Linked DNA regions of Homo sapiens: regions 1, 3 and 4 are each reported to be linked to region 2. Evidence: microRNA targets listed by miRTarBase, many of them from high-throughput screens and not tested one by one. Region 2 holds a microRNA gene; each other region holds the end of a gene's coding sequence. Distances are from middle to middle.

Region 1 (3,157 bases), not on the chromosome of region 2:
CTTACAAAATAACATTATAAACATTAAATCTCAAAACACTTTCTCACACATTTCAAAACTTACAAATAAGAATAGACACAAAATGGAACCAGAGTCCCAACAAAAACACATTATATAGGAAGTTATGTGATAAGGGTAGCATTTCAAATCAGTAGATAAAAGAATAATGATTCAATATATGATGTTTGGATAATTAACTATAAAAAAATTAGATTATTATGCCATACAGGAAAAATTCAAAATGGAATAAGTATGTATGTATTTGCTCCATCACAGTATTAGAAAAACATATGGGAAAATATTTTTAATAATTTCTAGTAGAGGACAGATTTACCTACTGCCAGGCATCATGTATTGCATGGGAAGACAAGAAGTACACACAGCAGCTAGTAAATATGTTGTGTAAGCCCCCAGAAAGAACTCCCTGAAAAGGGGCCAAATACATTCTCAAAAAAAGATTCTATCACAATTCACAATCCACACAAATATATAAATATGCTAACATTTGGCAGAGATCAGAGCAAAAAAAAAACATTCTTAATAAGATTAATAAGCTGAATATATTAAAAAAATAAAACTCTGTATTGCAAAAGACATAGAGTAACAAAAGATAAACGAGTAGGTAAAATGTTGACAAAACATAGGACACATTGTCACTTATCATTATGGTTCAAAATCTATACATCAAAAAGGAAAAGATACAATAGAAAAGCAGGCAAAGGACATAAGTTGCCAAGTGATTGTGAAAAATGCTTTAGTTCATTCAGTTTTTAAATGAAATTTTGTTTTTTGTTTTTTGTTTTTTTTTGAGATGGAGTTTCGCTCTGTTGCCCAGGCTGGAGTGCAGTGGCATGATCTCGGCTCACTGCAACCTCCGCCTCCTGGGTTCACGCCATTCTCCTGCCTCAGCCTCCAGAGTAGCTGGGACTACAGGCGCCCGCCACCACACCAGGCTAATTTCTTGTATTTTTAGTAGAGACAGGATTTCACCGTGTTAGCCAGGATGGTCTCGATCTCCTGACCTCGTGATCCACCCGCCTCGGCCTCCCAAAGTGCTGGGATTACAGGCGTGAGCCACCGCGCCCAGCCTAAATGAAATTTTAAATGAGATGTTTTAACCAATCAAAATTGATCATTCATTTGACTGGTGAGACTGTGGGAAACCAGGCCCTCTCAGGCACTGCTGTACAACGTTGCCAGATAGCAATCTGTCATACATTTCGGTAAGCAATTGGCTTGGAAATTCAAGTCACAGGAAGTGAGCCTACAGAAATACTTGCACCTAAAGGCAAAAGTGTTTGTAACAGCACTGTAATACTGTTAAGCTGAAAGCTATCTAAGTGTCCATGAATAAGGAGTGGTTAAATAAATTACAGTCCTTCCACACAATAGAATACTTCCACATCACTACTATACTAAAGAATGAGGTAGGTCAACACAGACTGACACTCAAAGATGTTCCATAATGTGTCATCAAGTGACTTACAAAACAATATATGGAATGATCTCAAGGTTCTTAAAATGATACAGTTTACATACACAGCTTAGAAGGATACACATGGGTCTTTCTTTTTTTTTTTGAGTCAGAGTCTTACTCTGTCACCCAGGCTGGAGCGCAGTGGCGTGATCTCAGCTCACTGCAACCTCTGCCTCCTGGGTTCAAGTGATTCTTCTGCCACAGCCTCCCAAGTAGCTGGGATTACAGGTGCATGCCACCATGACTGGCTAATTTTTGTATTTTTAGTAGAGATGGGGTTTCACCATGTTGGCCAGACTGGTCTTGAACTCCTGACCTCAGGTGATCTGCCCACCTCAGCCTCCCAAAGTGCTGGGATTACAGGCATGAGCCACTGTGCCCAACCATGTGTCAATCTTTAGAAAGTGAAAATACAGGGCATTCCATTTTTAACCGTATGTGTGTTTTAAATTCTTTCCAAGCTTGTGTTACATCTATAATCAAAATGATTTTCAATTTCTTAAAAATAATAATCATTTGAGAAAACTGCCCCATTTATTATAAGAGCTATTTGTTCTCCTCTCAGTGCACCTGAGGACCTGCCCAGAGTCAAGAAGTCACATAGGTCTGCGTCACCCTGCAGTATGAGGTGACATCTCCTCTACTTAGAGTTCTAACTCTTGTTCAATTAAAATCCACAACGTGGCTGGGCGCAGTGGCTCATGCCTGTAATCCCAGCACTTTGGGAGGCTGAGGCGGGCAGATCACTTGAGACCAGGAGTTCGAAACCAGACTGGCCAACATGGTGAAACCCCATCTCTACTAAAATACAAAATATTAGCCAGGCATGGTGGCACACACCTGTGATCCCAGCTACTTGGGAGGCTGAGGCAAGGGAATCACTTGAACCCAGGAGGCGGAGGTTGTGGTGAGCCGAGATTGTGCCACTGCACTCCAGCCTGGGCAACAGAGCAAGACTCTGTCTCAAAAAAAAAAAATCCACAACATAAGGATAAGTTCCCCTAATGAAGGATTTTACCTACTGCCAGGTACTATTTGCTGCATGGGAAGACAAGAACATACAAGGCAGCTCATTGATACGTTATGTTAACCCCCAGAAGAAACTCCCTGAAATGGGAATCTCCAAAAGTGATCCCATCACAATTCACAATCCACATGAAAATATAAATATTCTAACATTGAACACTTAAATATTCACACTGGCCCTACCAACAAGATTCATGTGTCAGCTGCACACTGTCTTTACTGGCCACTGAAAAAGAAGGGGGCCAGTCCAGCCAGCTAGTCCCTGCTATTCACATGAAGTGATGTGGCCAACTGGCTCGAGAGCCCTGTGGCAATCCATTGGCCCTGGTGGCCCAGGAGTGATGGCACCTTCTTCATTCACCTCCAAGAAGGCATTGGTCTCTCTGGAAGAAGTCGATTTCCTCGTATGGCAGACTTCTGTGCAACCTGAGTTCTTTTTTCCATGTTTGTTCTTCAATCTCCTCTTGTACGTCTGATATGCTAGGTGTTAAAACATACAAGTATTAACAATCACTTTAACAAAGAGTCTAATTTGGTGACACTGTACACTTGTCAATCCTTCAGGTGTTTGTTTCAGTGGCATCATGTATGTATAAACACCCAGGGAAAAGAAGGGGGAAAGAGAGAAAGCTATAGAACAGAAGGATTCAGTGT
Region 2 (3,157 bases):
GCTTGGTGAGGGTAAAACTATGCAAGAGATGAAAGGGCAAAGTCATGAAATATGCCCATACCAGTGATCAGTAAAATCATCTGAAGCTTTTATTACCTACCGATAAAGAAAAATTACAGGTCGTGTTTTACCAAAATCGAATTAAGTGGAGATTTAAAAAATAACTTTAAAAAATTTGGCTGGGTATGGTGGCTCATGCCTATGATCCCAGCACTTTGGGAGACCGAGGTGGGAGGATCTCTTGAGCCTAGGAGTTCAGTACCAGCCCTGGCAGCATAGTGAGACCCTGTCTCTACAAAAAAATTAAAAAATTAGCTGGGGGTGGCAGCACACACCTGTAGTCCCAGCTACTTGGGTGGTTGAGGTGGAAGGATCGCTTGAGCCTGGGAGGTGGAGGCTGTGCTGCGTGAGCCGTGGTCGTCCCACTGCACTCCAGCCTGGGCGACAGAGTAAGACCCTGTCTCAAAGGAAAAAAAAAAAAATTGGTAACTCGAAAACTTGTAATGCTCCCAACACATACAAATGATTAATACTCAAGGTCATGGATACCCCAGATACTCTGACTTGGTCATTACACAGTTTATGCATGTAACAAATACTTACATGTTTTCCATAAATATGTAAAATACTACGTCGATAAAAAATTCTCGTTAATTTTGAGATAATTTCCAGCTTACATAAGAATTGCAAGTACAGTGAAAAGAACTTTCTTTTTTGAACCATTTGAAAGTAATTTGTCAACCTGCTACTCCATTACCCTTGGAATACAGACCAGGGCATTCTCCCACAGAACCGCAACACAGCCATCCACGCGGGACACTGACTCTGATGCATTCCCACCGTCTAGTCCTCTAACCCCATTCAAGAGTCACCATATGTCCCAGCGTTGTCCTTCATAACAAAAGATCCAATTCAGGACTGCCCATTGCATCTAGTTATCCTGTCTCTTGGCTCTCCTGCAGTCTGGAACCTTCCTCAGTCTTTCTTTGACTCTTGTGGCCTGGATTTTATTTTATTTTTTTATTTTTTGAGTTGGAAACTCACTCTGTCGCCCAAGCTGGAGTGCAGCGGTGATATCTCAGCTCGCTGCAACCTCCACCTCCCGGGTTCAAGCGATTCTTGTGCCTTAGCGCCCCAAGTAGCTGGGATTACGGGCATGCTCCACCACGCTCGGCTAATTTTTGTATTTTTAGTAGAGAATAGGGTGTTGCCATGTTGGCCAGGCTGGTCTCGAACCCCTGACCTCAAGTGATCCGCCCACCTCAGCCTCCCAAAATGCTGGGATTACAGGCATGAGCCACTGCGGTCGACCATGACCTGGACATGTTTGTGCCCAGTACTGTCAGTTTGCAGAGTGTCCCTCAGTGTGAGTGTGTCTGATGTTCTTGTGTGATTCCACCGGGCACGTGTATTTGGCTGGAACATCACCCAAGGGATGCTGCGTCCTCGTTGAATCCCATAAGGTGGCACTTGATTTCCTTTTGTCCCACTATGGTGACATTCACTTTGGTCACTAAGGTGGGTTTTACCAGGCTTTTCCACTGTACAGTTATTCTTTTCCCCTTCATCATTCAGAAGCATTCCTTGGAGAGATACTTTAAAATTATGTTAATATCCTGTCTGCCATCAATGTCCGTTTCAATTCTTTGTATTTTTCTGTTTTATTCAGTGGTTTATAATCTGCTCTTAAATTGTTGACATCCTTGCTCAAATTGTCCTTGTGGACAGTTAGGGCCAGTGGGATCTCATCCAGGCTGGCTTCTGTGTCCCTTTGACATGTCCACATCATTCTTTAAGTGCTTTCTTGCTTTCTGGCAACAGATGCTCCCTACCCACCTGTGGAATCAGTCCTTTATCCAAGGGGCTCTGGTTCCTTTTAGTGGAAAATGAAATTTAGGAGCCAAGCTAGGTCTGCTTATTGCTGTTGGGGTGTTGCTAACCACAGGCCTCTCAATGGGCAGAATTAGGGAACATTTGTATGTACGTGCATACACACACACGTGCATCTATATTTATTTCAATAGGTTGAAAACTATGAGTTCAGACTGGTACCTTCAATTCTGATGCAGCACCTTGGGGTTCATTCTAGTTTTGTCTCTCCATATTCATGACTCCCATTGTCCCTGAAATATTAATAAATATTAACATTATGCATATTATATAAACTTAGGTATTATTTATATTATATAGTATATATTTGTTAATATTGATTATATTAATATTAATATAATCGATTATATTAATATAGTTATAATCGATTATATTAATATAGTTATAATCGATTATATTAATATAGTTATAATCGATTATATTAATATAGTTATAATTGATTATATTAATATAGTTATAATTAATTATATTAATATAGTTATAATTAATTAATATAATATGTATATATGCTATATATCATAAATATATTAATTATAAATATTAATATTAACATTAATGTTTAATATTTCATTCCTTGCCTGTGAGCAGTCTCTGTCTCCCTTGCAGCCCCCTCCCTGCACAGATGCCCTTTGCACCCTGCTTGCCAACAGACACCTCAGCTTGGGATCCCACACCCCCTCCCCAACTCAGAAGCTTGCCCTGCCCTTCCCCGCCAAATGGTTTTTAGGTCTGAATTGTTGGGAGGAGAAGTGGACTTTTTTGAGACTGTTTTCCAGAGGTATCAGTTCAGCTGAAAGCCAGTGCCTAAGAGCAGAGGTTTCAGAGTTACACTCCTGCCTTCCCCTTCCTGCTTCCCGGCTCCTTGGTCTCATGAACTTGGGCAGGTGACTTAACCTCCCTGAGCCTCAGTGTTTGTTTGTTTTGTTTTCTGTTTTTTTGTTTTTTTAAGACGGAGTCTTACTCTGTTGCAGTGCTGTGGCACAATCTCGGCTCACTGCAACCTCCATCTCCTGGGTTCGAGTGATTCTTGTGCCTCCCAATAGCTGGGATTACAGGAGCACGACACCACGCTCGGCTAATTGAGCCTCAGTTCCCGTATGTATAAAACACTGAGAGATGGACACTGGGGAATAAATGAGTTAACATACCTGATGTGCTTAGCATAGCGCTCAACGAAGATGTTATTGGTGTTACATTTATTGATGTCCACTGTTTTCTGGGCACTGAGAGGGATCCTGAGACAGAGAAGTCATAGGCCTAGCTCTCC
Region 3 (3,132 bases), not on the chromosome of region 2:
TGGCTGGTCTGAAGACCCCCAGTGCTTCTCTCCCCAATGCTGTCACTGGTCCAGGCAGGAGCCCGAGGTTCAGGCCCTGCCTCTGGACAGAGGGGCCTGGAGAACCAGGGTGGGTGCTCACGGCAGCCCTGTGGTCCCCCGTGCCTGGCTCGGGGAGGATCCTCAGGAATCAGGGACCCTCCAAGGAAAGAGGCCGCCGCTCCTTCCCCACCAGCCCAGTGTGGCCAGAACAGCTGGAACTCCTCTCAAATGACCCACCCCTGGGGTTTGGCCTTAGGAGAAACATCACTCTGGGCTCCCCCTCCCCTGCCAGGGTTGAGGCCAGCACCTGTCTAGGGCTGTTTCTGCAGCTGCTGCCTGCTCCCTTTGTCCTGCCTGGGGCTCTTGCTGGAGCCACGTGCCTAGGGTACAGGGCAGAGGGAGCTGAGGCTCCCAGGGCCTGAGGTCACCTCTTCAGCTGTGATGTCTACAGCCGCCCTCTGCTCCCAGAGATCCTCCCTGGGGAAGCACAGGGAGCATATTTAAGGTACCGAAGACAATCCTGTTGCTGCCGCATGGAGCCTGCCTTTCCAAGGCACTGTCGTTCAGGCTAGTAGCAAAGTTCAGGCAGTCCAACAGGTATGGGCGCCAGCAAGGACATAGCAGCAGGCTGCCCCCAAGCCCGGCCTCCCTGCGCACCCTTACCCCAGGTCCAGGTGACCACCTGTCTTCAAAGCCTCCATCCTGGGCAAAGGCAGAAAGAATGGGTATCTTAGTTTTTTTTTTTTTTTTTTTAAAGATAGAGTTTTGCTTTTGTTGCTCAGGCTGGAGTGCAGTGGCACAATCTTGGCTCACTGCAACCTCTGCCTCCCAGGTTCAAGTGATTCTCCTGCCTCAGCCTCCTGAGTACCTGGGATTATAGGCATGCGCCACCTTGTCCGGCTAATTTTGTATTTTTAGTAGAGACGGGGACTCAAACTCCCGACCTCAACTCATCCGCCCGCCTCGGCCTCCCAAAGTGCTGGGATTACAGGCGGGAGCCACCGCGCCGGGCCATCTTAGATCTTAGAGCCCACTTTAGTCCTTGAAATACATCTGAGAAGCCAATGGCAGCGAATGACGGTGCCCGCCTGCCCCAGGCACCTTGGGTGGGCCAGGCCCTGCTTCAGGAGGTGGCGGGCCACTCCGGAGACTGATGCAGCCCCACCCCAATGGTTGTCGGACTCAGCTGTGTCTGAGGTCTGTGAACTCCCAGCCTCTCAGAACCCCATGGCAACACGACAAGGACAAGGCAGGGCATGAGGAGGAGGAGAAAGTGATGCCTGTGGCCAGGAAGGCTTCAGACCTCTCATCTGTCAATGGGCCAGAGTGATGCCTCAGGCACCGCTAGAAACCCAGGGCCGGACAGGAGGCGAGGAGGGTGAGTGGGGACATGGCAGGGCTGAGCTGATGCTCAGCTGACTCCATGAGAAGGGAAGTGACCTTCACATGGGGGATACTGGACAGCACCCTCTACCTGCCTTCAGCAACCACTGAGAACACCCGGGGCACACACGGGGCAGGGGTGGCACCCAGGGTCACCTGTCTCCCTAAGGAGGCCCACTCCTCCCCCAGAAAGCCAGGGGGGAAAAGCTGCTCATCACCCAGGGTGGCAGAAACGTCTCCCCCAGCAGTTGGGCTGCCCAGCAGGGCCACCAGGCCTCTGTCCCAGCTGCCTTAAGAGGCTCTTTCAATGGGCCAGCTTCAGAACCATCCAGTGTACCGCAGCGGCCTGGCCTGGGAAAGGATTTCTCAGCCTGACTTTCCAGAGACCGAGGATGAGAAAGTTAGGCGGCAACAGAACAAAACCCCCGCCGCGAGATGGGTCTGCTGCTGCCTCATCTGAGTAGGTGTAAGAGGGGAGGAGAGGTGCCCTCAACACTCACTGCAGTGGCGCACGGGTTTTGGATGGGGGGACAGCATCTTGGCCCTCACAGCTGTGGCAGTGCCTCTGCGGGCCATGGTCCCAGCCCCCCACCCTGAGCAATGCTTCCCAGGCCCGCAGGTGCAGCCCCCTCTGCCCTTGGCCCAACCGTGGGCCCCTCCAGGGAGATGCTCTCGGCTGCCTTGCTACCCAGGGGTCGGCTCCGAGGAGAGGCCCAGGTGTGAGCAGCAGGGACCTGGTCTATGGCCTATGCCATGGACAAGGCAGAAGGACTGCCGTTGGTGGCCTGGGGGATGCGAGGGGAGGGGCAGTTCACATCGCAGCTCTCTCCGAACTCCACCATTTGGGACGTCTTTATTATGGATCCGTCCACTCTTCCAGGAGCAGTAGCCCTTCTAGGAAAGGGGTGGGAAGAAAACCAGCCTACCCTTCAAGCTGACTTAGGATGCAATGGTACAGACACCAGCCTTGGGGGAGGGTTCTCCATCCACACTCCTACCCCAAACGGGCTTTGTGCTGCTCAATGGGGATTCGGGGCCATCAGAAGCGATGCCGCGGCTGGGGGCCAAAGTGCATGGGCAGGTTGTGCTCCAGGGGCATGTGGATGGGACCGAAGTCATAGTTGACCCGCACGTTGGGCAGAGGGGGCACGTACGGGGCTGGGATAGGCCCCATGTTGAGTGGGAAGTTGTTGAACACAGGCCGCACGGGAGGCAGGGGGAAGGGTGGGTGCGCGAAGGCATAGGGTGGCATCTGTGGCTGTGGCAGGTTCTGCGGAACGGGCCTCGGGAGGGCCTCCACCCTCTGCACCTTCTCCACAGGCTTCTCCAGCGGGGGTCCAATGCGTTTGAAGGTGTTCTCTGAAAGGGATGTGGGGATTAGTGGAGAAAAACATTAAACCAACCTCAATGGAATCTAGCCTGGGACCAGGGCAGCGACCTCTGGACACGGGAGTGGCTCCACATGCTGATCAAAGCACAAAACGTGGACACCTCCCAAATGCCACTGCAAGAAACCAAGAACAAATCTGTACTTCCACCAGTGTCTTGCTCCACAGTGGCACCTTGGAAGGTGGCACGTCCACCCACCCAGCCAGACATCCTTCAGAGCCAGGGCCTTGATGGGCCACCTCAGTGACTCAGTTACTTTTTTTTTTTTTTTTAATAGATGGGGTTTTGCCATGTTGCCCGGGCTGGTCTCAAACTCCTGGGCTCAACTGATCCACCTGC
Region 4 (3,133 bases), 610 kb from region 2:
AAGGTTGCAGCTCTGTTAGGAGAAGCATATTAGCACTGACCTAAATGGCCATCCAAGTATGGTTAATTGCATTGTCGTATTTATAATTCCTTGATACAGAATGATCTCTAGGTTAAGTTAGGCACAAGAGGAAGACATGTACAACTCTGTGTGGTGGGCCACCTTGTGTGTTTTTTGAAGTGTGTGAATAAATATGTGTATTACACATATTTACATGCACAGAATCTTTGAGAGGGTAAAATGATGAGAAACTGTACCTTTAAGAAGGGAAACTAGGGGCAGGGAGACCTGTTTCTCTGCATCCCCTTGATTTTCTGTGCATTTAGCACCACATGTAAGTGTTGCCATTGAAAATATCAGTTTATTTAAAAATAATACTGGTGGCCTTCAGCAGAATCCCAGGGGCCTGATTTAGCCTGGCGGCCCTGCTTAAAGTCCAGGTGTTGGCAGAGGGGGTGGGCCATAACTTACCTGCCCTGTATACTGTGGGAACACAGGTGGAGTTTCCCGAAGCCCGGATTTATGAGGAGACCCTGAACATTTTGCTGTATGAGGCCCAGGATGGCCGGGGACCTGACAATGCGCTCCTGGAGGCCACAGGCGGGGCGGCGGGGCGCTCCCACCACCTGGACGAGGACGAGGAGCGGGAGCGGATCGAGCGCGTGCGGAGGATCCACATCAAGCGCCCTGATGACCGGGCCCACCTCCACCAGTGAGCAGGCAAGAGACCGAGCCGCCCTCCTCTCACCGCCCCCACTCCCTGCCGTGCTACACCCAGATCCTGTGCAGGCTGCCGGGCCCCTTCTGCTTCCCTTGGAGCCTGGAGATACTTTTGTAACAAGCCAGATGATTATTTTGGTATTGCTTGACAAGGCAAATTGATTGTCTTGACCCAGGCGTATGACCCCTGTCGTTGAACAAGCTGTGTCTAAGATCTCTACTTTTCATGAGAATCTGAGACTCTTTGGAGCCAGGCTTTCTCGGTTCTCAGAGGAAAAGTATGAATGAGTGTGAAGTGTATGTGAGAACTTTTGTTTGCAATATTTATTTTTGTGGGTGTCGACTTCCTATGTGGGCTTTTTGGGTGACACTCCCTTAAGGGTTCAGTTTGACAATTCTGAGAGTTGTCCTGCAGTTGGAGGCCACCAGAGGTATCTGAGCTCCCTGCTTCCTATTTCATAATCCTCCAGCCCCAGCAGGTCCACTCCTGGTTCCTGTGTGTTTGGCCCGGGCACAATCCCCACTGCTTTGCTAGACGTGCTTTCTGCCATGTGGCTTTGGGCCTAGAGCTTGTTGATAATTGCAGCTTGTGGCAGTGGAAATATGGCTGAATGAGCGTCTAAATCGTTGAGACCAGTGCAACTTTGGGTGCAAGGCTTTGTTTAGGGATCAAGCCTTTTGCCACCTTGGGCTGGTCTTTGGCCTGGTGCTCACTGGGACCCCATATGTCTGCGTAGGAGCAGAACTTTCCATGGCAGTAAGTGTCCAGCTCTGTTTCTGGTTCTTTCCCCAACTCCAGCCCCGTCCAGTTGTTCTCCTGATTGACCCGACTCCACTCCAGGAAGGCCATCTGACCCTGTGACAGGCATAGCTCATAAACTACCCCTCCCTGGGATCCCGCTCCTCTTCAGCCTCCTTCCCCATGAAGCTGGGCTAACTTTCTAAGTCATTTTGCTTAGAAATTCAGTGTGGCCCATACCCTTTGTCCTCCCAGCCTGGCATCCAGGCAGGGACACCCTCACACCACCAGCCCCAGGGAGCTTCCCTGCTATAAACACAGACCCCCTTGTCTTTGCCTCTGATTTTTACACAGTGTAGAGTGGCCAGCAGTGAACAGGTTGAGGATGTGCGGGTAGATAGATAACTTTGGGTCTGGTTTGTGTCTGTGTTCATGTTTGTTTAAGGGATATGTGTGACTGTGGGTGGGGACGTGTGCTTGTGGGGCACAGGTGGCGGCCCCTGCTGGAGCCCGGCTGGGCGCAGCGCCTATGTAGGACGGGTGTTCTCAGTGACCTACCTCCCAGGCTCCTCTGCACCTGCAAAGGAACAGGAGTGAGTCGTGACTGACAGGGGTGGTTGAGACTAGACTAGGTAGAGTAGTTACCAGGAGATGTGAATGTGCGTCAGGTGATGGATGGGTTTGTCAAGGGAATCGTTACCGTTTTATACCAAAGGTATTAACATGGGCAGCCTTTGACACATGTATTCCAAAAACGAGTTTATATTTTCAAACGGTTTTTACAGCTTAGACTTTGTACTTACTGCCCTGCCTGTGACAGTTGTATGCCTTCATTTTGTATCCAACAGCAAAGTCTACAATAAAACTTTAAAACAATCATGACTGAATGTCAAAATCGTGTATTGGGCAGATGCTTTTTAAACTGTCGTGTGAGAAACTTTTATATTAGGCCATTTGGATTTTATTAAGTGCTAAGGAAAGAGGGCTTACAAAATGTTTCGTAAATATTTTATACTGTTTAAGTGTTAAACACCAACCCTGTCTTTCTTTTGGGTTGAGCTTTTTTAGAAAGTCGAAGTGAATGTTGGCCAGGAAAATGGAAAAGCCATTGTATAAATTTTTTTTTGAGGCGGAGTCTTGCTCTATTGGCCAGGCTGGAGTGTAGTGGCACCATCTCCACTTACCACAACTTGTGCCTCCTGGGTTCAAGCGATTCTGCTGCCTCAGCCTCCCGAGTAGCTGGGATTGCAGGTACCCATCAGCCCATGCCCAGCTAATTTTGTATTTTTAGTAGAGATGGGGTTTCACCATGTTGGCCAGGCTGGTCTTGAACTCCTGACCCTGTGATCCGACCACCTTGGCCTCCCAAAGTGCTGGGATTACAGGTGTGAGTCACCACACCTGGCTGCATAGTGTTTTAAATGTTTGTGTGAAGAATGAGTTTGTGGAACAATTTGATTTGCTGTGGCCTCTATGCCTAATGAGCTAGTGTTTCTGGCAGCTCTCTCTACCCAACTTTGCACTTGTAGTTTTGAGTCTTTGTCTCTCTGGAATATGAACAGGTTTATAAAACATTCCATGGTGAACAATTCTGTCGGCTGCATTATAGCCATGAGTGAATAGACAGCATTGGCTGGTCCAAGCTCTGTTATTGAGTATACAAGGAACTGATTT

Evidence for each region. The annotated mature microRNA hsa-miR-619-3p reads GACCUGGACAUGUUUGUGCCCAGU and lies in region 2 at 1,315-1,338, shown strand. An mRNA with a match to its seed (bases 2 to 7 or 8) in the 3' UTR can be bound and repressed. Matches are read on the target gene's strand: a 7mer-m8 pairs with bases 2 to 8, a 7mer-A1 pairs with bases 2 to 7 and ends in A, and an 8mer does both.
Region 1: the mRNA of SLC10A6 is a reported target of hsa-miR-619-3p. The part of its 3' UTR that is shown has no 7-base or 8-base seed match.
Region 3: miRTarBase lists RNF216 as a target of hsa-miR-619-3p. Seed matches in the 3' UTR shown: 7mer-A1 at 887-893.
Region 4: the mRNA of KCTD10 is a reported target of hsa-miR-619-3p. The part of its 3' UTR that is shown has no 7-base or 8-base seed match.

What each region holds. Positions count from the first base shown.
Region 1 is chr4:86,820,920-86,824,076 of GRCh38, forward strand. It overlaps SLC10A6 (solute carrier family 10 member 6), which reads right to left. Exons shown (of 6, transcript NM_197965.3): 6 at 2,549-2,983. The coding sequence ends at 2,769. Among named protein-coding and RNA genes, the nearest start is that of SLC10A6, 27 kb to the right of the region's middle.
Region 2 is chr12:108,835,104-108,838,260 of GRCh38, reverse strand. MIR619 (microRNA 619) reads left to right here and starts at 1,255; the gene lies at 1,255-1,353. All of the region lies in intron 2 of SSH1 (slingshot protein phosphatase 1), which reads left to right. RefSeq lists an enhancer at 1-399.
Region 3 is chr7:5,620,417-5,623,548 of GRCh38, forward strand. RNF216 (ring finger protein 216) reads right to left here. Exons shown (of 17, transcript NM_207111.4): 17 at 1-2,763. The coding sequence ends at 2,444. Among named protein-coding and RNA genes, the nearest start is that of FSCN1, 29 kb to the left of the region's middle.
Region 4 is chr12:109,449,178-109,452,310 of GRCh38, reverse strand. It overlaps KCTD10 (potassium channel tetramerization domain containing 10), which reads left to right. Exons shown (of 7, transcript NM_031954.5): 7 at 498-3,133. The coding sequence ends at 716. Among named protein-coding and RNA genes, the nearest start is that of KCTD10, 27 kb to the left of the region's middle.